7 linked regions of the Homo sapiens genome follow. The protein of the gene in region 3 purifies or fractionates together with the protein of the main gene of each other region. This does not show direct contact. Each region holds a gene or a part of one and is shown on either strand. Other genes may lie near its edges. The genes, in order: KRT4, POLE2, ZUP1, FNBP1, IPO5, TIMP3 and FRYL.

Evidence for each region.
Region 1: the proteins of ZUP1 (region 3) and KRT4 purify together in Homo sapiens (affinity purification with mass spectrometry, with the first as the bait; one large-scale study listed by BioGRID). This does not show direct contact.
Region 2: the proteins of ZUP1 (region 3) and POLE2 purify together in Homo sapiens (affinity purification with mass spectrometry, with the first as the bait; one large-scale study listed by BioGRID). This does not show direct contact.
Region 4: the proteins of ZUP1 (region 3) and FNBP1 purify together in Homo sapiens (affinity purification with mass spectrometry, with the first as the bait; one large-scale study listed by BioGRID). This does not show direct contact.
Region 5: the proteins of ZUP1 (region 3) and IPO5 purify together in Homo sapiens (affinity purification with mass spectrometry, with the first as the bait; one large-scale study listed by BioGRID). This does not show direct contact.
Region 6: the proteins of ZUP1 (region 3) and TIMP3 purify together in Homo sapiens (affinity purification with mass spectrometry, with the first as the bait; one large-scale study listed by BioGRID). This does not show direct contact.
Region 7: the proteins of ZUP1 (region 3) and FRYL purify together in Homo sapiens (affinity purification with mass spectrometry, with the first as the bait; one large-scale study listed by BioGRID). This does not show direct contact.

What each region holds. Positions count from the first base shown.
Region 1 is NC_000012.12:52,805,624-52,809,133, forward strand, and holds the end of KRT4 (keratin, type II cytoskeletal 4), read right to left. Parts: intron 3,228-3,510; coding exon 3,063-3,227; intron 2,797-3,062; coding exon 2,671-2,796; intron 2,242-2,670; coding exon 2,021-2,241; intron 1,771-2,020; coding exon 1,736-1,770; intron 1,628-1,735; coding exon 1,446-1,627; 3' UTR 926-1,445; downstream 1-925.
Region 2 is NC_000014.9:49,646,045-49,650,520, forward strand, and holds part of POLE2 (DNA polymerase epsilon subunit 2), read right to left. Parts: intron 4,398-4,476; coding exon 4,221-4,397; coding exon of another isoform or gene 4,209-4,220; exon of another isoform or gene 4,103-4,208; intron 1,317-4,102; coding exon 1,249-1,316; intron 1,049-1,248; exon of another isoform or gene 526-1,048; intron 1-525. UniProt on the Homo sapiens protein: Accessory component of the DNA polymerase epsilon complex. Participates in DNA repair and in chromosomal DNA replication.
Region 3 is NC_000006.12:116,648,201-116,652,676, reverse strand, and holds part of ZUP1 (zinc finger-containing ubiquitin peptidase 1), read left to right. Parts: intron 1-484; coding exon 485-673; intron 674-939; coding exon 940-1,105; intron 1,106-4,476. UniProt on the Homo sapiens protein: Deubiquitinase with endodeubiquitinase activity that specifically interacts with and cleaves 'Lys-63'-linked long polyubiquitin chains. Shows only weak activity against 'Lys-11' and 'Lys-48'-linked chains.
Region 4 is NC_000009.12:130,032,852-130,037,327, reverse strand, and holds part of FNBP1 (formin-binding protein 1), read left to right. Parts: intron 1-4,476. UniProt on the Homo sapiens protein: May act as a link between RND2 signaling and regulation of the actin cytoskeleton. Required to coordinate membrane tubulation with reorganization of the actin cytoskeleton during the late stage of clathrin-mediated endocytosis.
Region 5 is NC_000013.11:98,021,564-98,025,100, reverse strand, and holds the end of IPO5 (importin-5), read right to left. Parts: intron 3,366-3,537; coding exon 3,279-3,365; 3' UTR 805-3,278; downstream 1-804. UniProt on the Homo sapiens protein: Functions in nuclear protein import as nuclear transport receptor. Serves as receptor for nuclear localization signals (NLS) in cargo substrates.
Region 6 is NC_000022.11:32,808,023-32,812,498, reverse strand, and holds part of TIMP3 (metalloproteinase inhibitor 3 precursor), read right to left. Parts: intron 1,184-4,476; exon of another isoform or gene 1-1,183.
Region 7 is NC_000004.12:48,497,280-48,501,755, forward strand, and holds the end of FRYL (protein furry homolog-like), read right to left. Parts: intron 4,455-4,476; coding exon 4,344-4,454; intron 2,942-4,343; coding exon 2,751-2,941; intron 2,402-2,750; coding exon 2,143-2,401; 3' UTR 78-2,142; downstream 1-77. UniProt on the Homo sapiens protein: Plays a key role in maintaining the integrity of polarized cell extensions during morphogenesis, regulates the actin cytoskeleton and plays a key role in patterning sensory neuron dendritic fields by promoting avoidance between homologous dendrites as well as by limiting dendritic branching.

The sequences.
Region 1 (3,510 bases), on a different chromosome or scaffold from region 3:
GGTGGGAGGCACAGTAGGGTGGCCAAGGCAGAGAGTGCATTCTGCATCTGCAGCAAACTGATTCGAGTCAGACTGCAGAGCAGGAGCTGGGAAATCTTTGGAAGAGGGGAGACTGTGCTGCTCCAGGTACTTGGAATTGGTCCAATATAGAAAAAGGGTGTCCCCAAATCTACCCAGACCCCCACCTCTGACTGTCCTCTCCCCGCTTCTGTAATTAGACAGCTCCCTCCACTCCTGCTCCAGAAGACCTGCTCCACCTCCAACATTCTTCGCCACTCAGGGACAGCACCACAGACATAACCCCAGGCACCCCTGAGGAGCTGGGGAAGTGAGCAGCTCATGAAAACTCTAGGAGAATGACACACATGCACACCTCCCTCCAACAACCGTGACCTTGTTGATTCTTGGAACAGGTTCCTGAAAGCCTTGTTGGGCCAGTGAGATTTAGCCCCATGCATGGAATTTCATGAAAATAGGGAGGCCTTGCTAGACACAGAGTATAAGCACTCTCATAAGCTCCATAACTTCTTGCTCTATATTCAGCAGAGACCCCTGGCCTGCTTCTCTCACACCTATCAAATGCCCCCCACCTGCAGACTTAAACCCCTTCCCTCCAGGTTTATTCCAGGATCAGCATTGAAATGGTGCTACCCCAGGGTGCCCTACAATGGACAATGTGTGTATAATTGTTGGATGCCCCTTCAATCTGTACAACTGCCCTGTAGGCAACCTTCAGCCTCTGTACACTGTACTTCTCCCCCAATAATTTGAGTAACTTAGAAGTAGAGACCTGAGAAACTAGTCGATGACCCAGATCTGTATAAACAGATCCTTCACACCCGCAAGCATACACCTTCACCAAAATTATCTAGTTATACAGGATTCTAGAGACCTCTCCCCAGGGAAAAAAGACCATTGCTCAGAATGAATGACAAAAGCATTTTATTGAAGATTCACCTGCAGATGGATAAGAGGGAATGAGAGGAGTAGAATGGGACACTAAGTGGTTCTCATCCTAAGCTTGCAGGGCCAAGTGCTGCCGGGTGTTGGAGAAGTAGTTTGGTTCTGATGTAGATGGATAATACAGGATCTAGTGGGAGATGGCATTGGACTGGGAAGGGACATATGTGACCCCAATAATTCTGGAGATGACACTCCTGGTCATTTTCTTCTCTGTCCATGGGAGGTGAGAGGTCAGCTGACATCCTTCCCATTCCAGGTGGGTCACCAGGCCCAAATCAAGAAGTAGCTACCAAACTCCAAGAGGCAGAGTCCCTGTCCCAGCACAGAAGATCATCCTGGGGCAGAGAGAGCCCATGGGATAGTGGAGGGGATACTAGTAAGATGAGCCCCAGAGACAGAGGATGGAGGTGAAGTGAAGGAAGCACAGAGACACCAGTGCTGGGCCCAGCTGGACACAGTGAGCTGCAGGGACCTCGTCTCCTCTATCGTCTCTTGTTCAGGGTGGTGGTAGAGATGATCTTGCTGCTGGAACTGCCAGAGACACTGCCACCAAACCCAAAGCCACTTCCAGAGCCGGAGCCAAAGCCACTACTCAGGCCAAACCCGGAGCCACTTCCTAATCCTCCGCTGATGCCTCCAGTGCTGGTGCTACCGCTGACCACAGCTGCAGAAAAGACACAAAAGACACAGTTATTCCAATGCTGCCAGCACCCCAGGGGTCTGGCAAGACCCGGGTGAATGAACAACTACAGCAGGCGTGGAAGGTACTTACAGATGCTCACGGCACTCTGGCATTCTCCAGACATTCTGTAGGGGAAAGAAAAGGCGGTGAGCCTCAGGGAGCACAGAATTTTGTTCAATAAGCATGCCTCACTCACCTCTCTTATCCTTGAGCAGCCTCTGAGTTTGAGGGCCCAGTGTGAACCTATTAGCTGAGCTGTCCTGGTTCGTAATGCACCGGCACAACACTGATGCTTGCAGCCCGGCAGAGGCATAAATAAGCTCATGGCCCTGGACCTCTCTGGCCCTCATGTTCACACCCTGCCTAACCCCTCACCTGTACTCCTCGCCCTCCAGCAGTTTGCGGTAGGTGGCGATCTCGATGTCCAAGGCCAGCTTCACACTCATGAGCTCCTGGTACTCACGCAGCATTCGTGCCAGCTCCTCCTTGGCCTGCTGCAGGGCAGCCTCCAGCTCTACGCGCTTGCTGTGGGCATCTTTAAGGGCATTCTCACCTCGCTGCTCTGCATCAGCCACGGATACCTGAAGAGTCTGGCACTATTGACAAAGGCATTAGATAGGTGGTCAGCAGTGCCCTGCCTTCAAGGCCTCTACACCTGTCCCCTCCCCTGGTCCAGCTTTCCTTGGGTTAGGATGTCAAGATTCTATCTGTTCTGCCCACTTTCCCTGAGACTTATGCATCTCATTCACTCCAGCCATAGCCCACCAATGCCTCCACCAGACTGATTAAATAAAAATGAGCAAAAACCCATGAAGAAGAGCCAAGAAACCTATGCACAGGAGCGTCATGGTGTGCCAACTAGGATATTGCTGAAAAAATCTGGGTATGCCTTGCACAAAGAGCTATGAATTCCCAGCAACAAGCTCAGGGTCTTCTGGCCTGATGCTTTATCTGCTTGTCCACTCTGGAGATGTCTGCCTGAGGCCCCTGGCCTTGTGCTCCATCTGGAAGGGAGTGACACCCACCTGCTTCTTGATGTTCTCGATCTCTGCCCGCAGCCTCTGGATCATCCTGTTGAGCTCTGCAATTTCACTCTTGGTGTTCTTCAGGTTGTCACCATGTTGGTCAACCGAGATCTGGAGCTGCTGGACCTAAGACTCAAGAAGACACAGAGAACCAGGTGTTAGGGGCATTTGGGTAGGGTCCATTCTCAAGTGAACTCAGTGAGAATTGCCACAGGTGGCAAGAATAGCACCAAATGTCAAGTAGTTTCAAATCAGACCAGGACCAACGATGCCTGGGAGAGTCTGTTCATATCTGACTTCTATTGGGCTTGAGCTAATGATCACCTGTTCACAGACATCAAAAGCAGAGCCCCAGAGCCAGCCCCATCTCCTGAGAGATCCATACCACCCACCTTGGTCTGGTACAGGGCTTCAGCCTCAGCCTTGCTCCTCTGGGCAATCTCCTCGTACTGGGCACGGACCTCGGCAATAATGCTGTCCAGGTCCAGGTTGCGGTTGTTGTCCATGGAAAGGACCACGGACGTGTCGCTGACATGGGTCTGCATCTGGGACAGCTCCTGCAGGGCAAATGTCTCACATCAGCCCCCCCAGGAAAGCCTTCACTGACCTGATACAGGCTCAAGTAGGAGCAGAGCTGGCATTCACAATGTGTAGGAAGGGGAGAGACAGGTAAAGTTCTAAGGAGAAATCAAGTGGTTGTGACAGTTCAGGATGGAAGAGCAATGCTTCTAGTCTTTACTGGTCCCCAGGAACCATAAGCCACTCTAATGCAGTGAGTGCCGGTGTGTTGGAATGGAAGGGAAGGGAATGGATCCATTTCACCAGAAAAAAAATGCTAGA
Region 2 (4,476 bases), on a different chromosome or scaffold from region 3:
CTGGGGTCACAAAATCAAGTGCCCTCAGGATATCCAGCGTAGACAAGTGGGCTGGAAAAGAGCCACAGCGTCTGGCCTCCTTTTTAATTTTATATTTATAAGCATGTTTTGAAAATTATTCATTTTATATTCACTTTTATTTTAAATAAATATGTTAATTCCAAAAAGAAAAAGACAACTGGGCTGTGTTCAAGATTATATTCTCTGACAATAACCTGGAGGGGAGTTACTTGATTTGGTCAGTTGTTTTTTTGTTGGTTTTTTTTTTTTTTTTTTTTTTTTTTTTTTTTTGAGATAGAGTCTCACTCTGTTGCCCAGGCTGGAGTGCAGTGGCGCCATCTCTGCTCACTCAACCTGTACCTCTCAGGTTCAAGCAATTCTCCTGCCTTAGCCTCCTTCTCCTGAGTAGCTGGGATTACAGGCACACGCCACCACACCCGGGTAATTTTTGTATTTTTAATAAAGACGGGGTTTCACCATGTTGGTCAGGCTGGTCTCAAACTCCTGAGCTCGTGATCCACACACCTCGGCCTCCCAAAGTCCTGGGATTACAGGCATGAGCCACCGTGCCCTGCCTGGGCACTTGTTCTTAACCAGTGGTGGGAACTTTTTCAAAATACAGTTATCTGAGAAATCACATGTTAGGATGCCTGAAATTACAGGAAATAATATTTAAAATGCCTATTCTTTACAATTAGAAAGTCATTTGATGAGTCTGGGGCAAAATCCTAACTTAACATTTTTAACAAGGACCCCAGAGGATTCTGATGTGGGTGATCTATGTAGATCACCCTGTGAAAACTACTACCCACTAGGTGATTATTTTCTTCTTTCTCAAGACCTTTCCGTAACTCCAACCCCATACCATCACCAAACTCACACACAGCTCCCTCACTGTCAATTTAAGGGAAAGTACCTAAGAAGCAACCATACGGAGGGCAGGACTGACCTCTCAGAAGAGTGAGACCATCGTCAGGAGTTGGCCTGTAAGAGAACTAGCTCACCTCCACAGCTGGCCTGAGATTTCCCCCAGAAAACAGTTCTTGATCTATTTCAACACAAACGTACCATCATGTACCCACAATTCTGTGTCACACAGCATAACCGTGATAAGCTCAGCCAATAATATTTCTTTATGGGCCACTGTAGACATTTTCAAAAATCCCAACACACTGATAGAACATCTCATTTTCAGTAATTTAACACCTAGAGAAAGATCTTTCTTGCTGTGTCTGTGCACACACTTACCTATCTTCTACTGTCTTATTAGAAGGATAAAAAACTTTGAATGAAAATCCACTTCTTGGAAAAGAGCCCTTTGGGGGAGAAAAATGCCTGTAAGTGAATGCTCAGACTTTTTTTTAAAATAAATTTTTTTAAACACAATATGTATATTTTTTATTTTTTATTTTATTTATTTATTTTTTTTTTGAGACATGGTCTCACTCTCATCACCCAGGCTGGAGTGCAGTGGGGCAATCTCACTGCAACCTCCATTTCCGGGATTCAAGCGATCTTCCCATCTCAGCCTCCCAGGTAGCTGGGACCACAGGCATGGGCCACCACGCCTAGCTAATTTTTGTATTTTTTGTAAAGAGGGACAGGGTTTCACTGTGTTGCCCAGGCTAGTCTTGAACTCTTGGGCACAGGTGATCTGCTCACCTCGGCCTCTCAGAGTGCTGGGATTACAGGCATGAGCCACCGTGCCCAGCCGAATACTCAAGTTTTATAAAATAATTCCTGTTTTTTAAAAGTCCTTGGTTGTGACTTAAAATGACAAGATGTGACTATAAAGTAACACAACAGATTTTTACACGATCTTTTTACAGAGTTGTTACTATAAAATATCTCCACTTGAAGCAAAAGTCTTTTGAGTTGGCTAGACAGTCTTAATGCTAAAAGATGAGGTTGGAAATGCTTAGGAGGAGCTCTACTTAGTGTAAAAAATAAACAGACTGTGTAACGCCAAATATGCATGTGAGACAATCAGCAAGTTCAAGAAGTCTTTCCTGCCCCTCTCTCTAATGCAAAACTGATTTGCATTCCTATGTACCTGTTTGATTCCCTTCCTATGTGCCTGTAAAGCAACTGAGCAATAATCACACATACAATTGTTTGTCTACTATGAAACTCTCACGTGGCTGAGCAGAGGCCCTGTCTTTTCAGTCTTTGTGCCCCAAGCACCGAACCCAACACCTAGCCTATGGCAGGCATTCGTTAATGTGAATAAATATCAAGAAAGGATGAAGTAATGTCTAAGGCTAGTTTTGAGCTTGCCCAAAAGGTATAAATAAGGTAAAAAAGATATAATGATGGTGTAGGAGGTGGTGGTTTACTCACAGGGATGAAAAAGTAGAAAAATTCAGAAATAAGGTATATTCAAATAGAGCATTAACTAGGAGAATGCCCAAAGTTTAAGTAAGGAAATAGCATCACCATGAAAGACTATTTCAATGTGAATAAAAATCAGGTCATAAATTTCTAAGCAATAAAACCAAATCAGTTAACTGTGTTCATTCTTAAAGCAGAGGCTCTTAACCAGGGTTCCTTTGTCCCTCAGGGGGACATTTGGCCAGTGTCTGGAGACATTTCTGATTGTTACAGCTGGGGAATACTACTGGCATTTAGTGGACAGAGGCCAGGGATGCTGCTAAACAGCTTACAATGCACAGGATAGCCCCCACCACCAAAAATTACTTGGTCCAAAATGTCAAAAGTGCCAAGGCCGATAAGCCATGTCTTAGAAGAAGCTGGACAAACTGTGTGTTTGAGGAAAGCAAAGTAGAGACAGGCCCTTTCTATGTTGCCCATGCTGGTTGTGAACTCCTGGACTCAAGCCATCTTCCTGCCTCGGCCTCCCAAAGTGCTGGGATTACAGGCCCAGCATCATGCCAAAAATAAGGCATGATGTTTCTAGAAATTACTCAGATGAAACAAAAAATTAGTAAAGTCTAAAATTCACAAGAATCAAGGAAGCATGCATATTAAAAATCTCTAGTGGAGATAATATTTTGTTTGACATAACTGTGTTTATGTCATTGTTTATGCAGTATTTATTCTCCAAGTTCAAAAAGTCAATTATATTTCTTTCCCTTTTTTTTTTTTTTTTTTTTTTTTTTTGAGACGCAGTCTCGCTCAGCTGCCCAGGCTGGAGTGCAGTGGCGCGATCTTGGCTCACTACAAGCTCTGTCTCCCGGGTTCACGCCATTCTCCTACCTCAGCCTCCCGAGTAGCTGGGACTAGAGGCGCCCGCCACCTCGCCCAGCTAATTTTTTGTGTTTTTAGTAGAGACGGGGTTGCACCATGTTAGCCAGGATGGTCTCGATCTCCTGACCTCGTGATCTGCCCGCCTTGGCCTCCCAAAGTGCTGGGATTACAGGCGTGAGCCACCACACCCGGCCTATATTTCTTTTCTTTTTTTTTGAGATGGAGTCTCGCTCTGTCGCCCAGGCTGGAGTGCAATGGCGTGATCTCCGCTCACTGCAACCTCTGCCTCCCTGGTTCAAGCAATTCTCCTGCCTCAGCCTCCCAAGTAGGTGGGATTACAGGCGCGCACCACCACGCCCAGCTAATTATTGTAATTTTTAGTAGAGACGGGGTTTCACCATGTTGGTCAGGCTGGTCTTGAACTCCTGACCTCGTGATCCACCCACCTCGGCCTCCCAAAGTGCTGGGATTACAGGTGTGAGCCACCATACCTGGCCTAAAAGTCAATTATATTTCTGCAGAAATTCTGAAGCAACCTCAAGATTCTGAAGCAATTTCAAGGTTCTACATAAAATTAAGTAATAAAATATGTACCAATGAGGTTTCTATATTAATCAGGCTTAGATTTTTGGGACCTGTGCAATTTCCAAAAATCAAAATCATTCTCAAAGGACAAGTACCACCAATATGCAGGCTCTGAAGCAATTCCCAGAAAGGAATCCCAAGATAAGTTCTGAAGAGGAGAAAATTACTCTTTTGGATTTATGTTTTGGTATGCTTGTGGGTATGCTTGTTTTTTTGTTTTTTAAGTCATGTTACTTTATAGTCACTATACTGAAAGTTTAAGAACTTTCTGTGTATACCAACTTTCTGTGTATAGAAACTTAATTCAGTGTTTCACTAATAGCATATTTTTACTTCGACAATAATCTTATTAAATATATATTTTTAAATTAAAAAATGCACTCTAATCTTGATAAATAATGACTATATAAGATTAACTACATTCTTACAGGGTTTATGCAGAGGCATTCGGTATTTGTCGTAGTGAAAGGATCATATTTGTCTGCAATGACAAGTAGATCGGGCACAGGATACACTCTCAAAGCATAGTCATATGCCCAATACACTGGGCAGACATAAAGAGGTAGGGGAGTCAGATGTCCTTGGGATAAGATAGTCTTTACAAACTACAAAAGAGCACAAAACAAAGCAAACTTCAGTTCATTTGCAAAAGTGAAAATAGCTAAACAAATAATTTCAAATTAA
Region 3 (4,476 bases):
TGTTTATTATTCATGAAGTCAAGAGTTTTTAAATGAAAACATTTGTGTATTCTCATGCTTCGAAAATTGCAAAATCTGCAAAATAAAATCTTAAATTACAAAAAAATTAAAACTATTGGTAATAGGGAGCTATTAATATTTTTTGATTGGGAGCAAATTGATTAAGACTGAGTGATCTCCAGTAGTCTATACAATAAAATGGAGACACAAGAAGAACATTCATTCAACAGTTGTACTTTATGTGCTGGGCCCTGCAGATGCAGAAAATTTCAATGAACTGTAATAAATAATATGCTAGTGTTAGGAAACTTGGACTGTAGTAACAAGCAAGGACACAAACTAAGGTTATAGCAAGAAGAAGGTGAAGAAGATGGAATTAACAGGATTTAGGTATGGTGCGTGAAGGAGAGGTTGATATTAAAAATGTATGAGATAGCAATATAAAGGTGATAATGACTGCTTCTGAATCTCTTTTCTACTTTAGGAATTATTGAAGCACTTCATAGGTATTATCAGAATGCTGCCACAGATGTGAGACGGGTGTGGCTTTCTTCAGTGGTGGATCACTTTCATTCATCTTTAGGCGACAAAGGTTGGGGTTGTGGTTACAGAAATTTCCAAATGCTACTTTCATCATTATTACAAAATGATGCTTACAACGATTGCTTAAAAGGTATGTGAAATCTAGTACTCTGAACTTGTCATCTGATAAAATACATATGATATAGAATGATATAGCATACACAATTAATAGCTTTAACAGTTAGTGGATATTTATATAAGAAACCTGAATTCTGGTTAGAGGAAGAGAAAATGATAGAAGATGTCAGGAATAACTGTCTTAAAAACCGTAAAGTTCCCCGAGTACATAATACACTGCTAAATATTATTCAGTACTTTATTAACAGTCATGTAACATGTTTGCTTGTGTAATTTTAGGTATGTTGATTCCTTGCATTCCAAAAATTCAATCTATGATTGAAGATGCATGGAAGGAAGGTTTTGATCCTCAGGGGGCCTCTCAACTTAATAACAGGTTACAGGGAACAAAGGCCTGGATTGGAGCATGTGAAGTATATATACTCCTGACCTCCCTAAGGGTAAAGTATGTACCTTAAAACCTAAATAAATGTTATTTCCTTATCGGGGAGCTTTGTTTTGTAAAATTTTATTTTTTAGCAAAGAGATAGTTTAAAAATAAAATTAAGTAGCACTAAATTAAGTAGCAATGAAAATCAGCAGCCTATTCACTATCTTGTGCTCTTCTCTACCCTCAAGTTCTGTCTCTCAGAGGCAACTGTCACTTCCATTGTTTTTAAATGGTATGCTTTCATAGCTGTTTCTTGGTTTATGAGTTTCAGATAGTCTGTTTTAATATCTTATACCTGTTTACCTTCAATCCTTCTGATATGATTAAATCTTGGTTTTTATTAAAATCAGAGTTTACATCATTTTATAAAGTCAGATTTTATTATACAATTGTGTAAATATTGCTTGTTGCTGATTTTTTCTAAAATCATTTATAATTTTTCTTGAGTTAATAATTGTGTTTCCTTTTCTCTTTTACTATAATATGTGACGACATCATGGCCTCAAGTTTTTGCACTCTACCTGTCATGTAATCTGAGGCTCTCCTTATTCTCGGACACATCCTTCTTGAGCATTCTGTCCTCTTTGCTCCAATCTGGACTTTTTGCCTTCTAGATCTACAGCTATTGTCATGTAGCATTTTTTCACTGTTTTGTGTGTGTGTGTGTGTGTGTAGTCTCATTTTTAAAATGTATAACCTATTTATTTTCTGTGGAAGTTATTCCAACCTTCTCTTAGCCCATCATAATTTCACGATATTATGAAATTTCACCATGGGGTGTGGGGCTTTGATTCATTGTGTTGGGCATTTGTTTTTCTCTTTGAATCTGGAATTGTGAGTTGTCTAAGATCTTAGTTCCATCTAGGATAGTAGGTAAGAGCTTGAACTTTGGAGCGAGACTGCCTAACCTTGATTCATAGCTTTCCTACTTAATAGCTGAATGAATGAACTTGTCTGTACTTAGGTCTACTATTGATAAAAGAAGGTATTAATAGTAGTTAGACAATTAAATGGGATAATAAAGTACTTAGAACTGTGACTGGCATACAGCATGACTTCAGAGGTTAACTATTGTTGTTTGATAATTATAATGTCTCTGTTTTCTTTGTGGAACTATTGATAGTTGGCCACTGAACTAATCTTTTTTTTTTTTTTTTTTTTTTTGAGACGGAGTTTTTGCTGTGTTGCCCAGGCTGGAGTGCAGTGGCGTGATCTTGGCTCACTGCAAGCTCCGCCTCCTGGGTTCAAGCGATTCCCCTGCCTCAGCCTCCCTAGTAGCTGGGATTACAGGCTTCCGCTACCACGCCTGGCTAATTTTTGTATTTTTAGTGGAGACGAGGTTTCACCATGTTGGCCAGGCTGGTCTCAACTCTTGACCACAGGTGATCCACCCGCCTCGGCTTCCCGAAGTGCTAGGATTACAGGCTTGAGCCACGGCGCCCGGCCTGCTTCTTTACCTTCTAAGTTTATCATGTCTCTTTTTTAAAAATCTTTGCTTTTTCTCTATTTTCTAGATTTACTCAACTTTATCCCCCAATTACTGTATTGAAATTTTTATTTTACCCATTATGTTAAGGGGTAATTTCATAGCATCATTTTCTTTATGGTTGCAAAATTTCTTCCAATGTTTTCTTTCTATTGCCTGCATTTTGTTTGTTCGATATTAGTATTTTTTCATATCTGTTTGTTTTAGTCTTTTCTATTTTGAAGGCTTTCTTTTAATTTTGGAAATCCTTAGTTGTCCATTCAGAGAGTGAAGAATGAAACATTAAAAAGCTGATTAGAGTGCTGTAGGACTGCACAGAGCTTGCAGATTAGCAGACTTATTTAAAAGTCTTAGGTGGAAGGCGGAAGGTTACTATTTGGTTGGGGAACTCTCAAATATCGTTATATAGAGAGATCTTTTCCCAGAAGTTATCCAGAGAAGAGTTTTTCACTCTCTTACCTAGAGTTCCTACATTAGTGGAGGGGAGAGTTAAGGTGTGATTTGCCTTCTAAGCAAACTTTTAATTAATCTCATATTTTTAGCCTCACTGTTCTCAAACCTTATGCTTCTAAGCTTTCAGCCTCTCTCTGATTTTGAAACATACGGTCTCCATTTTCTTTTATTTACTTTTATATGTTCTCTGTGGTGCTTTCCATTTTCTGAAGATGTGAGCTCTTTTCCTGTCTATTCCCATTCTCTTTGTCCTTGGGTGTTTAAATCATTTTTTCCTTCAGTATTATGTCATTGGGTTTTTAAGAGGAAATAGAGATAGATGTCTGTGATCGTGTTTAATGGAATGTTTGCGTTAAGCTTTATGGCTTTATATTTTCTTTTATGTTTGTTTCTAAGTTATTTAACCAGTGTATCACATTCTTTTTACCACATTGATTGATTAGATTCAGAAATAAAAATATTTCTTTCATTAACATAGAAAAACTAATGTTGTGTGTATGTATAATAACTTTCTTGAATTATTTAAAGAACTATTTTAATGCCCTCTAAATTTATTCCTGCTTTTCTCCTTTTTCTTTTTGCCAATGTGTTCACACTTTGAGATTATTTATACTCTATCATGTTTTGAGTTTTAAAGTAATTTTTTTCTTTTTCTTTTTCTTTTTTTTTTTTTGAGACAGAGTCTGTCTCCAGTCTGTCACCCAGACCAGAGTGCAGTGGCGCGATCTTGGCTCACTGCAACCCCTGCCTCCCAGGCTTAAGTGATTCTTGTGCCTTTGCCTCCTGAGTAGCTGGGATTACAGGCATGTGCCACCATGCCTGGCTAATTTTTTTTTTTCTGCATTTTTAGTAGAGATGGGGTTTCGCCATGTTGTCCAGGCTGGTCTTGAACTCCTAGGCTCAAGCGATCCACCCGCCTTGGCCTCTCAAAGTACTGGGATCACAGGCGTGAGCCACTGCACCCAGCCGTAATTTTTGTCCAGCTTCTTTCTTGGTACCTTAAATAATTTAGAAAGCTTTTTTATTAATATATCCTGAGTGTGTTTAGTAGTTATTTACATGTCTTTCTGTTGCTCTCTCTATGAGTTATATCCTGTAGGGTACTGTTTAATTAGTATTCTAAATGTAAATATGCAAACTGCTAACCCCAAAACATTCTTTTTAAACGGTTTATCCAGAAGTTTATTTGAGCACTTAAAACCCAGTAACCAACTGTAAGTTACCAGCATTAAATTTGCTGAGGCTGAGGTTAGCAATTCGGATGTTTTAGAGATTTTATTGCCAAGAGAAACAAGAACAGGATATCTGTGCTGTAGTTTAAAGTGATGATAAAGCTATCAAATGCTTTTAGTTATACCCGACCTTTTAAAAACAGTTGTTGAGTAGTATAAACAGTGTTTCTGGTTAAAAAAATGTTTATTCAAGGGTGACTTCCTCTTGAAGGAAG
Region 4 (4,476 bases), on a different chromosome or scaffold from region 3:
GGCTGGCGTGCAGTGGCGCGATCTCAGCTCACTGCAACTTCTGCCTCCCAGGTTCAAGTGATTCTCATGCCTCAGCCTCCTGAGTAGCTGCAGGCCCCCACCACCATGCCCTGCCAATTTTTGTATTTTTCATACTAGAGATGGGGTTTCACCACGTTGACCAGGCTGGTCTCAAACTCCTGACCTCAAGTGATCTGCCTGCCTCTGCCTTCCAAAGTGCTGGGATTACAGGTGTGAGCCACCATGCCTGGCCTCTACTGCTCCTTTTTCTTTTTTTTTTTTTGAGATGGAGTCTCGCTGGGTTGCCCAGGCTGGAGTGCAGTGGCGTGATTTCGGCTCACTGCAAGCTCGGCCTCCCAGGTTCACACCATTCTCCCGCCTCAGCCTCCCGAGTAGCTGGGACTACAGGCGCCTGCCACCGCGCCCGGCTAATTTTTTGTATTTTTAGTAGAGATGGGGTTTCACCTTGTTAGCCAGGATGGTCTCGATCTCCTGACCTTGTGATCCGCCTGCCTCGGCCTCCCAAAGTGTTGGGATTACAGGCGTGAGCCACTGCGCCCGGCCTACTGCTCCTTTTTCTTAACCCTTCAGAGATTTCTGTTTGGGATGAACATGGCAAGACCAACAGGGGAGATAATACTCCCTGAACCATGGTGGGTAGGGCAGAACTGCTTCAGAAGAGAAACAAAATCAACTTAGTTTTGCCATCCTTACTTCTCCATGAGAACAAATTTTGCACATGTCTTTTCTGTTTAGTGGATATTAAAAGAAAACAAACCGTGGGAGGCCTGGAGATTTTGCAGTTGATATTTAGATATCAGTTTTGTTGCCCTCACTTTGTACATTAGACAGAATCCTGAAAATTTGTGTAAATTGCCATTTTGGTAGGCAAAACTGTACTTTAAGCACATAAAAGAGTTTTATAAGTGTCTATACTTACTATGTGAACACATTACAACTCATGCTTTACATTGGTGAGACATGGAAAGTGCTTCTTTGAAGGACTATTCAAGTATCACCCACTAAGCAGCTAAAGCTAATATTATGTTTCCTGCAAGTATTACTCATACTTGTTTCATCAACACCACCCACATTTAAAAATAAGGCTTTATTTTGACACTTAAAAATTGAAAGCTACTAAGAATACATGAATGCCCTGGGAAATTAATCTAATTAGATTTTAGAATGTGGGTGTGAAGTCTTCTGGAATTAGTGTTTATAAAGGAATATTTGTTTCCTGTTTTACTTGTACACTCATACTAGCTTGAGCCTAGTAATGTGTTTAGTTAAAAAAACTTTTTTTTTTAATGATGAGGCCAAATATGTGTATTATATTAGAGAGTAATTTGGGGGTATGTAAGTTTTTGTTTGTTTGTTTTTTGAGATGGAGTTTCGCTCTTGTCGCCCAGGCTGGAGTGCAATGGCACGATCTCAGCTCACTGCAACCTCCACCTCCCGGGTTCAAGCGATTCTCCTGCCTCAGCCTCCCGAGTAGCTGGGATTACAGGCGTGTGCCACCACGCCTGGCTAATTTTGTGTTTTTAGTAGAAATGGGATTTCACCATGTTGGCCAGGCTGGTCTCAAACTCCTGACCTCAGGTGATCCACCCGCCTTGGCCTCCCAAAGTGCTGGGATTACAGGCATGAGCCACCGTGCCTGACCTCTCTATTATCTTAAAGTCTCGAATGATTGTTATCATTACTGCCATTTATTGAGTGCCTACTATGCCCCAGGTGCTGGACAAAGTGTTTACATCCATCATCTTGTTTATTTGTTACAAGAATCCAGCAAGGTAACTACCATTTGTGCCAATATCCTGGAAGAAGAGGCTTAGATGGAGTCATTAGTACAGTTTTACTGGGGAGTAACACCTGTGAAGGGGAAAGAGTGGAAGCCATCAGATCACGATGCAGACCTGACAGAGTCCCCACCAGGCCAATGGGGAGCTCCAGAGCAGACACAAGAATCCTCTGGCAGAAATGGCTCGGCCTCTGTATCTCTGCCTTCCTTTATCATTGGCCAGAGGTCGTCCCAAGAAGAGGATGGCCTTGGCTGCCAGCTTGCTTAGTCATTGGCTGGGGGTGCTACAAGAAGAGATGCCCTCGACTCAAAAGATGAGGTGGACCCTAAAGGAGGCTGCATGCTAGCCACAGTCCTTGCAGCTGGGCAGCGAGTCATTTTTTGCCACTTCTCCATGTTGCCCAGGCTGGGGTGCAGTGGCACGATCTCGACTCACTGCAACCTCTGCCTCTTAGGTTCAAGTGATTCTCCTGCCTCAGCCTCCCAAGTAGCTGGGATTACAGGCACATGTCACCACACTCTGCTAATTTTTGTATTTTTTTTGTAGAGACGGGGTCTTTCTATGCTGCCCAGGCTGGCCTTGAACTCCTGGGCTCAAGTGATCCTTCCACCTTGGCCTCCCAAAGAGCTGGGATTACAGGCATTAGCCACTTGGCCAAAAACTGGATCTTCTGTGTTAGTAGTGCACAGTTCCCTTTATCCCCACCACTCACTCATATTTCCCCATCACTGCAGTAGATTTTGCTTTATAAAACAGTTGATGTTATTCATATTGAGAATCACTGAGAATCAATGACTCACACCACTAAATGCTGCAGAGCCAGCAGAAACAGTCATGAATGAAGCTCGTACTCAAGCAGATGCTTCATAGATGTCTAGTAATCTCCTAATCCTTTCAAAGCCAGTTATTGTTTCTCTTTTCTAATTTAAATAAATTTGTGTGGATATTAATTAGTAGGAGTAGTATCAAGTTTCTGAATTTGCCCAACAGAAGTATGTCTTGGCGAAAACTATTTTTAAGGAAATTGAGAAAGAACAAGGAGGAATACAGAGTCTCACTCTGTTGACCAGGCTGGAGTGCAGTGGCACAAACATGGCTCGCTGCAGCCTCAATCTCCTGGGCCCAAATGAGCCTTTCGCCTCAGCCTCCTGATTAGCTGGGACCACAGGTGTACACTACCACGCCTGACCAACTTGTTTTTTTTTTTTTTTTTGAGATGGAGTCTTGCTCTGTCGCCCAGGCTGGAGTGCAGTGGTGTGATCTCAGCTCACTGCAATCTCCGCCTCCCGAGTTCAAGCGATCCTCCTGCTTCAACCTCCCGAGTAGCTGGGAGTACAGGCGTTTGCCCGGCTAATTTTTTGTATTTTTAGTAGAGACGGGGTTTCACAGTGTTAGCCAGGATGGTCTCGATCTCCTGACCTCGTGATCTACCTGCCTTGGCCTCCCAAAGTGCTGGGATTACAGGTGTGAGCCACCGCAGCTGGCCTGTCTAACTTTTTTTTTTTTTTTTGAGACAGAGTCTTGTTCTGTCACCCAGGCTGGAGTGCGGTGGCGCAATCTCTGCTCACTGCAAGCTCTGCCTCCCAGGTTCATGCCATTCTCCTGCCTCAGCCTCCCGAGTAGCTGGGACTACAGGCACCCGCCACCATGACTGGCTAATTTTTTTTTTTTTTTTTTTTGTATTTTTAGTAGAGGCGGGGTTACCATGTTAGTCACTGTGTTAGCCAGGCTGGTCTCACTCTCCTGACCTCGTGATCCGCCCGCCTCGGCCTCCCAAAATTCTGTGATTACAGGCGTGAGCCACCGTGCCCAGCCCGGCCTGGCTAACTTTTTTAAAAAAGTTTTTTTTGTAGAGGTGGGGGGGTCTTCCTGTGTTGCCCAGGCTGGACTTGAACTTTTGACCTCAAGTGATCACCGGCCTCGGCCTCCCAAAGTGCTGGGATTACAGGCGTGAGCCACCATGCCTGGCCGACATTCAGGGTTTTAAAGTTTTGAGTCTTCAGGAACAAGAAACGAAACACTTTCTCTATTATCTATAGCAGAAGAAAACTTGGGACCTGTAAAGGAATCTCCTCCCCTTGTACTTCTATTTGCACAGCCAAAATTGAGAACGGGTTCCTGAAATCCATTTAAAGACCAGACAGGCTCTGGGGACAAACGGTGTGGGTGCTCCCAGTTGAGTGAGGCAGTGCTGGAGGGCTCAGCCTGGGTTGCCTTGCTTACCTAATCTAATATTTATTAGTATCGGGCAAGTCCTTGCATCTCTGTTCCTCGCTTTCCCAATCTATAAAGTATGGTATGATGCTTGCCTTTCTCTTGACAAGAAGGCATAAAGGTGAGAGATTGTTCGTAAAGTACTTTGAGGTTGTTGGATGAAAGGTGATAGGTAAACACAAATTATTATAATCATGGGGAAGGTTAATGAAAAAAACTCTGGTCCCTGGGAACAAACTGTAGAACTCTCCTGCGGTAAGCAGGATTCATGAAAAATGAGCTATTTTCTGTCCTAGCCTTCTGATTTAAAATTTGGTGTACATGTTAACAATACAATAAACCTAATATTTGGAAAATGCCTGGAAATCGTTGCTTTGGACAGGAAATCTGGATTTCAGGAGGTCATATTAATAGCATGTTTATCTTTTCCTCCTTGAAGAAAAATAAAATCCACTCCAAA
Region 5 (3,537 bases), on a different chromosome or scaffold from region 3:
ACTGTAAGGGTTACAGCTGTGTGGGGAAAAAAGGGTTTAAGTCTAGGGCAGGATGTTGTTAGAATTAACCCCTGCTCCTCAGCACCACCATTCAGAAGTTCCAAGTGCTGGAAATAAATATTCATGCTTCCTCCCAAGTGTGATGTGCATACATTGTGGATCATTCACTTTCTTCTTCTAATAGTGGTACTCATACTTTTAGGGCCGAGAAAGAAAATCTGCTTAGGAATAGCAAACATGGCAGGTTTTGGCTGTTAATCTTTTGTGGCAAAGAAGGTTAAGAGAAGCAAAGTGATTTCGTTTTTTTTTTTTTATTTTTATTTGAGATGGAGTCTCACCCAGTTGCCCAGGCTGGAGTGCAATGGCACAATCTCGGCTCACTGCAACCTCTGCCTCCCAGGTTCAAGTGATTCTCCTGCCTCGGCCTCTGGAGTAGCTATGATTACAGGTGCCTGCCACCACACCTGGCTACTTTTTGTATTTTTAGTAGAGATGTGGTTTCACCATGTTGGCCAGGCTGGTCTCCAACTCCTGACCTCAGGTGATCCGCCTGCCTTGGCCTCCCAAAGTGCTGGGATTACAGGCGTGAGCCACCGCGCCCGACCTGCAAAGTGATTTCTGTGCAGCAGAGAAAACTGACCCAACAATCCTCCTAGGCAGAATGAAGCAGTTATTAAAACATTTAGCTAGCTCCTTAGCCTTTCACGTTGCTTAAACAGGCACTCACTCAAAAGATTAGATCATAAAAATATAATGCTTGCAAGACTGTAAGTAAGCACCCCCCTTATTTATTATCAGACCAGGTGCACCAAGACCATTTATTTGCTTATGTCTTTACTGATGGTTCTGTCAAACTACAACTCCAGAGTTATAAGGTTGCCTCTCATTACAGAAGTGTCAATTAGATTTAAGACAATTTTACTTTTCTTTAAAGATACAGCATTTAAAAAATACTCCAAATTGAGTTATGCCAAAGTTTCTAACACTTGTGCGTGTAACTTGTTACAAAATTCCCAGAAAACGTAAGAGCCACACACATTTTTCCCCTCCAGAAATAGCTTGCATTTATAAACAATATATATCACTTGCTGACATGCAAGACCCCTAAATTTGGTACAAAAGCCAAGAAAAAACTCCATGGATTTTCATCTTGCATAGACAGAATGAGGTATTAAAAATGCTTCTGCAGGTCCTTTCAAAGAATTGTTAGTTCATGGTACATCTCACAGTTAGTTCTGAGCTCTGGGTTTCAGAATCATGTCACACTAACAGCATTTACTACCAACCTTCCCTATTAACTTGATTCAACTCCAATTACCTCTTTGCTTTTCTGCTTTTATCAAGGAGGATGCTGCCAGTCTGCATCTAACAGAGCGCTTCTTTCAGAGCTCTTAGAACCCTGCTGTAAGTACATCTCAGATACTAACGGCATCTGACAATACCACTAGTGTTTAAACTGGAAGGTAGGAGGTTCTTGCTCCCAAAGTGCTTAGCATAGTGCCCAGCAAACACTAGGTTCTCCCAAAAAACATCTTCTGACCACACTGTCATCTGAAATTCTGCAGGTGTGCCATGATTTTAACATGTTTCTTTTCTGCAAGTGTAGTAATAAAGTGTAGTAATAATTTAAATTAAAAAAAGCCTACATTGCTCTAGCTGATTGGCATCAGTACATGAATCGGCTTTGCAGATGCTACATAAGAAAGCAGAAAGGGGTTGTCTTGACACACTTTTTACTCCAATTCCCATTTTTTTCTCCCAAGGAATACAGGCTATAAAGCTCCAAATATTACCACACATTACAAGAGCCCACAGGTATTCATCCACTGAACACAAGGACTGCGCAGGTGGAGTCATTTAATATGCTGCTTTGCTAGATTCGGAAGCCTCCGGGCAATGGTGTTGTGCTGCAAACGTAAAATATATTTGAAGGGCATCTGCTAACAAGGAAACCATCTGTATGTAATCCATTCTATTTTCTATTCCATTTCAGATTTAGTTTTAATAAAGTAATACAAATCATTTAAAGAAAAAACCTTTAATTTAAAATTCTGATCTATGCATAAAATTCATTTTTATATCACGGTTAAATTTAGTACAAACTATAAAAATGTTAACACTGAAGTTTTCAACAGAAGTCTATTAAGATGCCTTAGAAAAATTAAACAACAGCAAGTCATTTACTGCTATGAGGTTAATACATAAAGAAACATTCACACATTTTACTGAAATTTTCAGTAAATAACTTTAGCCATAACACTTATAATTAAAAGTTCAAAAGTTGTGTGTGGCTCTACAGCAATTATAATTTGCAATGAAAACACTAAGCCAAATCTTTTTGAGCTGATCAGAACAATCTTAGCTACAAAATTGGCTGAAATTTGCAAACCTTAAAAAGAACACCAATTGTGAATGGAATAGGTATCATAACTTAGCTTAAAGTGGAAGATGGTAAAAACTCGATGCTTAAGTCTGAATTGCACAAGGAAAATATTAGGGGAAAAAACACTCAGCTATTACTGATAGCTATTACTTTAAAAAAATATTAGATCATTCTTATATTAAAAACATGAAATGAATCCAAGCCAGACAGTACTGAGTTTTTACACAAGCCTCTTTTGTATTCAATGTTGTTTATTGAGGAGTGAATGAGAGACTACTGCCAGACATGCCAATGACACTTCACATTCAAGGGCTGGAAGCTGGAAAGCTTCCCGACTGAGTCACTGTATAAGCCTTCTGGGAAAAAGAACCAAAGTGACATCAAATATGCCATCTTCATGCTTGTTGTCTGTCATCAGTTTTTTTCAACTTTTGGGTCTACTGGTTTGCTGGGTAGGAGGCTTCTTTCTACCCTACAGAAAGACTCACACTCCCAATTCACAATGAACACTGAATGCAGAGCAATTTGTGTGAACACACATCTACGCTGAGTAACTGTTCTTAAAGCTGTTTTTCCTTAAATTTCCTTATGTCTAACGAGAAAAATTAATTTGATTTCCCTTTCCCCTTCAGGTGGGCGGGTTATACCAATAGAAAAATAGTCTTCAGTGCTAGCTACCGCAGGGCTTCCAGGAACTCCTTCAGTGGTCTGGTAGAAATCCATGGAAACTCCATTCTGCAACACAGCGCTGCTCTTCCTGCTTGTGGCTCTCCAGAAGAATGGCCTACACACAACACTACCGATCTCTTTTGCTCAAAAACAAAACAAAGAAACCTAAAGGAAAGGGTAAGCGTTTATTTGGAGTTAGTTTTCTGGTGGGTGACATTAAGGCCCTTCACGCAGAGTTCAGGAGCTCCTGAATGGCGGCCTGCTGCTCAGGACTGAGCTGTGCTATGCACTCAGTCCACAGTCCTCCAGAAGTCTAGGGAAAGAAACATTTTCACAGACTTAGGACGAAATGCTCATTTGGAAGGATTTTAATCATCATCATAGGTAAACTGTAATCATGGCAAAATACCTTCTCCCTAGGTACATTATTTTGATGAGTATCATTGTAAAAGCAAGAAATCTGTTCATTTTTTTAAAGTTCATTT
Region 6 (4,476 bases), on a different chromosome or scaffold from region 3:
ATCAGTGACAGGCCCTGAAGTGACCTTGAGTCTTAATTCTAGCCATCGACTAAGTCTGCAAGGTTGCTGTCTGTTTGGCAAATCAGCCCTGCTCCAACAGAAGTTTGGTGGTCAAATATGTCATCTGATAAAGTATCTCAGCTCACTAGAGGTTTTGTTCAGAGCCCGCATCCACTTTTGCAACCACAGAAATCCTGGCTCTTACCTTAATAGACCATATTTCTAACAAAGTTACCTACTGAAGGGTGTGGTTGACAGATTTAGGTGCTGAGTTATTCAGCTAAAGTAGAGAGCCCTTTCCAAGGGAACTTAGAGCCAGAAAAACTTGACCATAGTAGGCATTCAGTGAAATACACACCACATAGAGCCAATATCCTGCTGTTTTACAGATAAGAGACCAAACCCAGGGAGGTCAGTATCACCAAGGGGACTCCAGAGTCAGATGATGAACTAGGACTAGACCTTAGGCCTCCTAACTCCAGCCAGTGCTCCTCCTCCATGCCACACTGCACCTCCTAGCCCTGGCAGTGGATAGGGGAGCGGTTGCTGACTCTTCAGCCAAGTTCATTGTCACCATTCCATTTCTAGGGCCCTCTCTTTGGCTACCCTAGTGACTTCTACCTCTGCTTATCAATGGGAGCTGTCTAAAGAGGGAAGGGCAGCACCAGATCCTTGACAAGTGTTGGGCTTGCCCTCAGAAGACATGGGTTCCAATCCCATTCCATGTATTGGCTATATGGCTAAGCCACAGAACCCCGCCATTCTCAATACTGACATCCACTAACTAGGAACTATGACCGACCCCCCAATCACCATCCTGCTTTCCTCGTTGCGAAGTTGTCATCAAATGAGATCAAATGGACTTAAGACTCTAAAATGTGAAGAGTTGTGAAAATAGAGTAGGAACTTTGTTGTTTCTTTCTCTGCCCTGTGGGAAGCACTGTGACAAAATGGAACACATTAGATTTGGAGGCGGGGGGATCAAACCACGATTTTGAATTGAAACTCAGCTCTCTCTATATGACCCTGGAAAACATCACATCACACCACAGAGCGCCATTTTCCTCACCGAAAGTGAAGTGAGAATATCAGCTCTGCTCTATAACAACACTACTACTAAAAGCTCATGCTTATTCTTATTGAGCTATTCTGTGCCAAGAATCAGTCTCTTGTATAGACTAAGGGCTACAACTTTTTAGACTTGGGAAGATTCTACCCATTTTGCGACCTCTCCACCTGAGTCTTTGGCTCCCCACTTTTGGGGCCCCCCTCAGTCTGCTTATCTTTGATTTTCTTCCTCTCCAGACATGCCTTCCCTGCTGCCCCCAAATTTTATTACCGTATAGTCAGTTCTGGGATCCTAACATAACCAAGCCTTACCTCCTAACCCAGTGCCCTTTCAACTGTCTCAGTGGTTCCCAGCCTTTTCAACACTAAGGAATATTTAGTGCTAAACATTCCATGAAGTATTTCACTTAATTGCCAATGAAGTTACCACGTGGTACATAATATATTTCCCCCCATTTTAGAGATGAGGAAACTGAGGCAAAGAACCTGCCCAAGCTTGGGAGTAGCAGAGCTCACTAGAGCTATCATGTTTCCAAATCGAAAAGGCAGGGAGCTTATTCATGATGATAAAGTCTAAGTCAAAAGGGAGCCCTTCCTAAATACATGAGATGCAAACACCTTAGTCAAACACCTCAAGTCACGAAACCAAGTCTTCATGAAATCTGACCCTGGTTGCGAAACTCACCATCCCCACATCCTAATCCAGGCATTGCAGGAGCTCTGAAGTTTCTGAATGAAACAGCTCTTCTCTGCAGGCAGCCAGGCGGCCCTGTGCCTGACACCCTCATGGGCAGAGGCAGAGGGGATAATTACCATGTAGTATTTAAGATCTCTAGTTCCGGAATGGCTCTTGGAGGCTTGGTCAGCTCAGGACTTCCCCTCTCCACTCCCCAGTACCCACCCCCCGCCCAATCATCTAGGGCTCTGTTTTTCCACTAACTGAACTTTACCTTGGGCTCTCTGAGGCCAGATCGTACAGCTTTCCTTCCCTTCCCCACCCCCACAAAAAGCCAGGTGGCTGCAGGCTTGGAAACACTTATAGTTTCTTGTCTCCAAGCCGTGAATGCCACCATTAGGTGATCGGATTTACATGAACATAAATCAGACTTGAGTGTTGGGTAGTGTGGACTGTCCCTTCTGTGACAGCAAAGCCATCCTAGCCACACAGATGGCCTCTAAATGGGTCAGGAAAGGTTCTCTGGGGCCCCTCTGAAGCTACAAACACTAATTTTTTAACAGCTGAACAAAAAGACCTCTTAGTTCCACTGCAGCCCACATAGACACCTGTGGGCCTCCTGTCAAACAGTATTTAGTAAGTCCCTTTAGCTAGAATCAATACTTTGTGTACCCCTGGATGCCAGACATGAACATAGGAAAATATCTGAACCCATGTCACCTCCTCTGAAAGGATAGGGACCTCAACTAGGACACATCAGTTACCTGCTGTCTATCCCAGGCATGGTGGCAGCACTGTGGGTAACAGGGAGAAGTGACAATGGCAGTAAATGCATGGGACCTGCCCACAGGGAGAAGAGATGCTAAGCTGGCATGAAACTAAAGATTCTCAGGAGGGGCAAAGGACAGCGATATACCAAAGAAGCCAGGAGCTATTTTAGGCATATCAGTAAGCCAACCCAAATCCGACAATGCAATCACCCAGGAACCCATGAGAAAACTTCCCAGGCTTATGAAAACACCAACCGTCCTTGCTTTCGGCTATAATTAATTAGTATATTAGCTGATTGTGTCAGAATAATGACTGGCTAGTATCAGCAGTTCTAGTTATATTTTAATTTGTTTTTTAATGGAAAGTTAATCAACACTCAACACATGAAATTGTGTCGGATAACTGTTCCAAACACAGAACTTATTGGAGGGAAAAATTAATTTTAAAAAATTCCATAGTGTTGAAAAGTCTGGGAACCACTGAGAGAGTTGAAAGGGCACTGGGTTAGGAGGTAAGGCTTGGTTATGTTAGGATCCCAGAACTGACTATACAGTAATAAAATTTGGGGGCAGCAGGGAAGGCATGTCTGGAGAGGAAGAAAACCAAAGATAAGCAGACTGACGGGGACCCCAACAGTGGGGAGCCAAAGACTCATGTGGAGAGGTCGCAAAATGGGTAGAATCTTCCCAAGTCTAAAAAGTTGTAGCCCTTGGTCTATATGAGAGACTGATTGGAAACACAGGTTTTGGAGATAGGCTAAGCAAGTATAGGTTGCAAGTGGTGTGAGCTTGGGCAAGCCATTTGGCTTCCCTAGCCTGAGACAGCTCATCAGGCAGCTGGGATGACTGATAGGCAAGTAAGGAGCTTGGTACAGTGCCTGGCACATAGTAAGGGCACCAAACTTACTATGAAAATTACAGTATTATGTTTGTGATCTCCTGCAGGGTTGGCATTTAGAAATCTCCACTTTCTTCTCTGGGAGGGTGCTAGGGTATCATGTCCACCAGAAGACAGGACTAGACTTATCAAGTAATGCAGAGAGCATAGTGGGTGCTTACCCTCTAAAGTGGGTTAGGTTTATCCCTCTGGGTGGCACGCAGCCCTAAGTTCTTTCTCCCAGCGCAGGAATGATCCCCTCTGGGAGTTTCCCATGCAGCTTTGGAGAATTTGGGTTTTACTAGAGATGGTGTTTTTCAGCATGCTTAAAATATGGGCAAGGTTTATGACTGTTCGTCTGTACCAATGCCAAGGAGTGATCAGGGAAAGGAACCAAAGGAGACCTAGAGAATGAGAAGTTAATGAGGACTGTTCAAAACCGAGGGGGTGTCATGGGCCAAGAGCCAGAGAGACAGAGTATGAACAGCTGGAGCAGGACAGACCAGTGATGAGACTATGAGGATGAGGTAGGCAGGGTCCACACTGGCCCTTGTAAAAGCCATTTGATGATACTTTATCCTAAGAGTCCACTGAAGAGCTTTCATCAGAACAGGAATTCTTTCCTAAACCAGGCCTTCTAGCTCCCATAATAATGAGACCCCAGCGTCCTTCTTGGCTGGGGTCCACCCAGCCTCCCTCTCGGCAGTCCATCCTCCTCCTTGTGACCATCCCACTGCTCTCACCCAAGTGCCATCCATAGGCAACAAGAAGGGAGACAGATGAGTGAGTGCCCTTGCTGCCACCATGAGCCTGGCCAGCGGACAGCTTTGAGTCAGAAAGCAAAACCCTGTGTATGTGTGTTCAAAACACAGCCACATATACCTTTGAACCTGAGTCCATGTAAGTCCTCAAAGTCAAACAACTTGGTGTAATAAATGGTCCACTGCTTATTCTGAAAGCAAAATAAATACATAAAGCTATCTTCAACCGAATTACTCCAGCATGCAACAAGTCAAGGGTCACAGCTTTCCTGGCATTGCAGCCTTCCTCTCCCTATGAAAATACTCCCATTAACTTGATCTTCG
Region 7 (4,476 bases), on a different chromosome or scaffold from region 3:
GAGGCTGAGGAGCAGAGAAGTGTAGGTTGGAGGAAAATGCTGTTGCAGAAGGCCATCCTAATGAATTTGTTTGCATCTTGCTTGCTGCAGGTATATTCATTTTTATTATATTAATAGACTTAGTTACATATAAATAAACACAAAAAGCAAATATCAACTGAAAGGTTTGGTTGGGTAGTCAACTAATTTTGTTCTTTTCTAGGGCAATTCAAGAAGGTAACATTTGAAAGGTTTCTAAATGATGCACACTGTAATCATTCATTCTTTGTTAAAATACAACACAAACCAACAGCTACAATGCTTTTTATTTTTAACAAAAAGGATGTAAGGAGGGTAAGAAAAACAGAGGACAGTAAGATAGGATGTAAAGTGTGATGTATCTCTGGACACCATCCCTCTCTGCCTGCCCCACACCCAAAAGTTTTAAATAATTTAAAGGATACCAATTACAGTACCAGAACACCATCAAAATAATTGTCTTTATCAGGGTCAAAAAATACAGTGATTATGAATGAGCTGTGACCAGTTACGAAATTTTACTGGAAATGTTTAACTGTGGTCAGCAGTCCAATGGTGTGCACAGTGCCTTCAATTAATGCACTTGAGCATACGTAATTACATTTCTGGCAGGGTCCACACCCCCCAAGAAAAGGTAAAGCTAAGCATTTCATTTCTACATTCTAAACTCTGGAATCACAGAGCCCAGTTTAAAAGAAAAGTCACAGTGGATAAGAGATGTATATAAAAAATACAAGGTGTTTCTTTCAAATCAGGAGTTGTGGGACTACATTCTTTTTTTTTTTTTTTCTTTCTTTTCTTACAAAATGCGATTTTAGAAAAGGATAGAGACTCCAGTTCATGTTATACTACAGACTTAGACAGTGAATAAGTATATTGCATGTTTTGGTAGTCAGTCTTCAGGCTTCCTTTCATTTCCCCTAGCCCCAGGTTTCTTTAGGGTAAAGCATGTGAGTCCTGAATAAAGATACAAAAATGCATTTGCAGCTCTTTTCTTGAATTCTGCAGACTTCAAAGCCTGCAAGTCATATATTCCATCATCAATGACCACAATTTTTCTTTAGCTTTGTACACCTATTCTTGTATAACAACAGTGCATGGCACAAATGTACAAGAAAATAACTGGTTTTAGTCTCTACAGTTTCTATATGGAGTAAAATAAGTTAAAACTTTTCTAATGAGAATAGCTGACAGGCAGCATACATCTTTATTTTACATTTTAAAGTCTCTGCAGGCATCTACTTTGGTTAGTTATCAACAATCATAACATAAGCACTGATCAGAGAACTGAGCAGCATTCCAATAACGTTAACAGATATATTATTTCTTTTTGAAATACTGGGAAAGCCCAGTTTTAAAATATTATTAAAATGTTCTAACATTTACATACTATGAAGAGTTAGATCTAATAAAATAACATTTCTTCAAAAATAATCTTGCAGTGCTCTTTTAGGCATGCTCTGAGACGTTATCACCAAACATCCATACCTTGAAAATATGACTATCACATATCCATACATCCCAACTCACACACACATAATTCCTTATACAGACCAAAAAACAAAAAAACCCAAACCCTTATCCCACATACTGAAAAATCAATGGTTTTTGCAAACGAGTCTTGATGCGTATAGCTGACTGCATGTTCATGTGGATGGATGATTAAGCATCAATTGCAGGTTAGGTTTTCAACTGCTAGAAATCCAAGCAGCTTTGCAGGTCTTCAGCTAAAATGAAACAGCCTTGATTTCAGCCTCATTTCACCTGCTTTTGGTTGTTTCAGTATTGGAGGCCATTATTGCAAACATTCTTGGAATTCTTTTCTTTCCCCAGAAAGTAATGTATTTGTAGGCATCACTTTTAGCCCTTTTCTTTTCACGTAGGTTAAGTAATTAAAAAATTCCTTCTTCACGCAGTTATTGTGGGAGATATTGGCAGCTGTTAAAATATCAGATGTTTTTTTCTTTCAGATCTTTGTTTTTGATGATACAGTTTGACATTAGTTACACTAAAAAGTAGATGCTGCCAGAAAGTTATCAGTGAATGCAAGGGTCCATAAAAGGTGCTTGGTTAATATTCTTCATCATCTTCAGTTTAGTTTCTTTCCTAAAGGCCTGAAGTGTCTCAGAATCCAGTGCTCACCATATTTCCCATTGGTTTGGCCTGTGCTAGAAGTTGGTATGATTGCACCATGCGTAGAGACTCTCTTATTTCCAGATTAAGTTCCATCAGTTTGTAGTTGGCTTCTGACATGTCCAGGTTAGAGCCTATAACTGCAAAGCTTCCTGTCTGGCCCAGCGTCTGATGATGGAAATATATATGTAACAGTGTCTGTACAGGGTCATCTTCACAACTGCCAAAGATATCACTGGGCCAGAGAGATCTGAAAATACACAATAGTTTTTCAGTTCTGAGACTTAGGCAATAGTTAAGACTAACTCAATTTAAGTTAAATACCTGTAACAACAACATTTCCTTGTGAATAACATGATCTGTTTTAATATTTGAGCAAATATTACTCAAAGTACCACCTGAATTCACTTTCAAAGTACCATCTGAAAGTGAAAAGAAATCTAAAATTGGTATCATTTCAGTGGCAACTGTTAAAAATACTCATGTTTTTCTTTCACAAAGACATGATATGGAAACAGCAAATTGAAAATGAAAACCTAGTATTACTAAACTTCCTGTCTAATTTAAAGGCATCACCTTTAAATCCCGTCACGTTTTACCTGAAAGCTTTGACTTGTGCTACAGCTGATATAAATTCTTTATTTTTCAAAGTTTCAATTAAAGAATGAATGGCAGTTTCTATAGTAGTTTGTGCAGCTTTGGAAATGTCAATTTCTTCGTTTTCGGAAGCGGACTCAGCTTCTTTGAGGATACTTTCCAGTTGGGCAAGTTCCTCTGACATGTTGATGACCTAAAACAAATACATCTTTAAGGATCTATTCGTATGTTTGGTAACAAAAACATTTAGTTGGCTACAAGAATATACCTGATGGCAGTAGCATTGTTGCTCTTAAAGATTATTTTAAAATGTTTGTCTTGGAAGAAAGGGCAGTTAATATTTCAAGTACTCCATTCTGTAGGAGCAAATAAATTCCACCAAATAGTAGTCTTGAAATTAAATGTTCTTGATAAAGCAACAAGTTGTAATAAATGTCTATATTGGTTTTAATATTACTACATTTTGGATAGTAAAAGTACATTTACTGTTATGGGGGATCATGAAAACTATATAACAGTAAAGTCTTTAGATTTTAAAAGATTATTTACCCCAGGGTATTTTTATATAAAAAATAAATACATGTATATTTCTTTTTACAGATTTAATGACTAAGAAATTAAATCATTTCCCCAGTGATAGTTTTATTACCAGCAGATGACAAGGGGGGGAAAAGACTAAAGTTAGCATCTTTGAGGCTATGTATTGATTTTCAACATTCAAAGTGTTTTTTAACATGTTTTTTCTTGTGTGCACTAATAAAACTGTAACAATGTGGGCTGGGCACGGTGGCTTATGCCTGTAATCCCAGCACTTTGGCAGGCCAAGGCAGTGGGTCACCTGAGGTCAGGAGTTTGAGACCAGCCTGGCCAACATGGTGAAACCCCGTCTCTACTAAAAATACAAAAAGGTTAGCTGGGTGTGGTGGTGCACACTGGTAGTCCCAGCTGCTTGGGAGGCTGAGGCAGGAGAACTGCTTGAACCCAGGAGGTGGAAGTTGCAGTGAGTTGAGATCATGCCATTGCACCGCAGCCTGGGCAAAAGAAGGAGACTCTGCCTCAAAAAAAAAAAAAAAAAAAAAAAGCTATAGAAATACGAACAACATGTTGAGGGAGGGGGGTTGATGATACAGTTTTATGTCTTTATTGAACTGATGTGCTTTGTTTGACTATTTTGATTTTCTGAGACAGGGTCTTGCTCTGTCACCTATGCTGGAGTGCAGTGCTGCAATCACAGCTCACTACAGCTTCTAACTCCTGGGCTCAAGTCATCATCCCAGCTCAGACTCTCGAGTAACTAGGACTATAGGTATGTGCCACCATCCCTGGCTTTTACTTGACTTTTGATTATAGATGATCTGTGTCTACTATGGAAACCTTTAAGGTCTTGAACCTTTTACAACTGCTGGATATCTGCTGTCTTATTTACTCATAGGTCCTGACATAGCACATCATTAAAAAACAAATTATTCCTTAACTAAAAGAAAAAAGACTCACTCTAAGTGACTTTTGACTTAAGCTATTTTAACAAGTAATAGATTTTATTTTAAAATTTTTTTAGAATCAGTTACTGATGCCTAATACAACTGAATATTTACCTCTGCTTCATTTTTTATCGTATTTACTTGGTTGATAAGTTTACAGTAGGCCTGGAACAGAAGCAGCAATTGAAAATGCAATTTGTATAATCTTCGGCAGAGCTCCAATTCCTAGAAATAAATAACATTACAT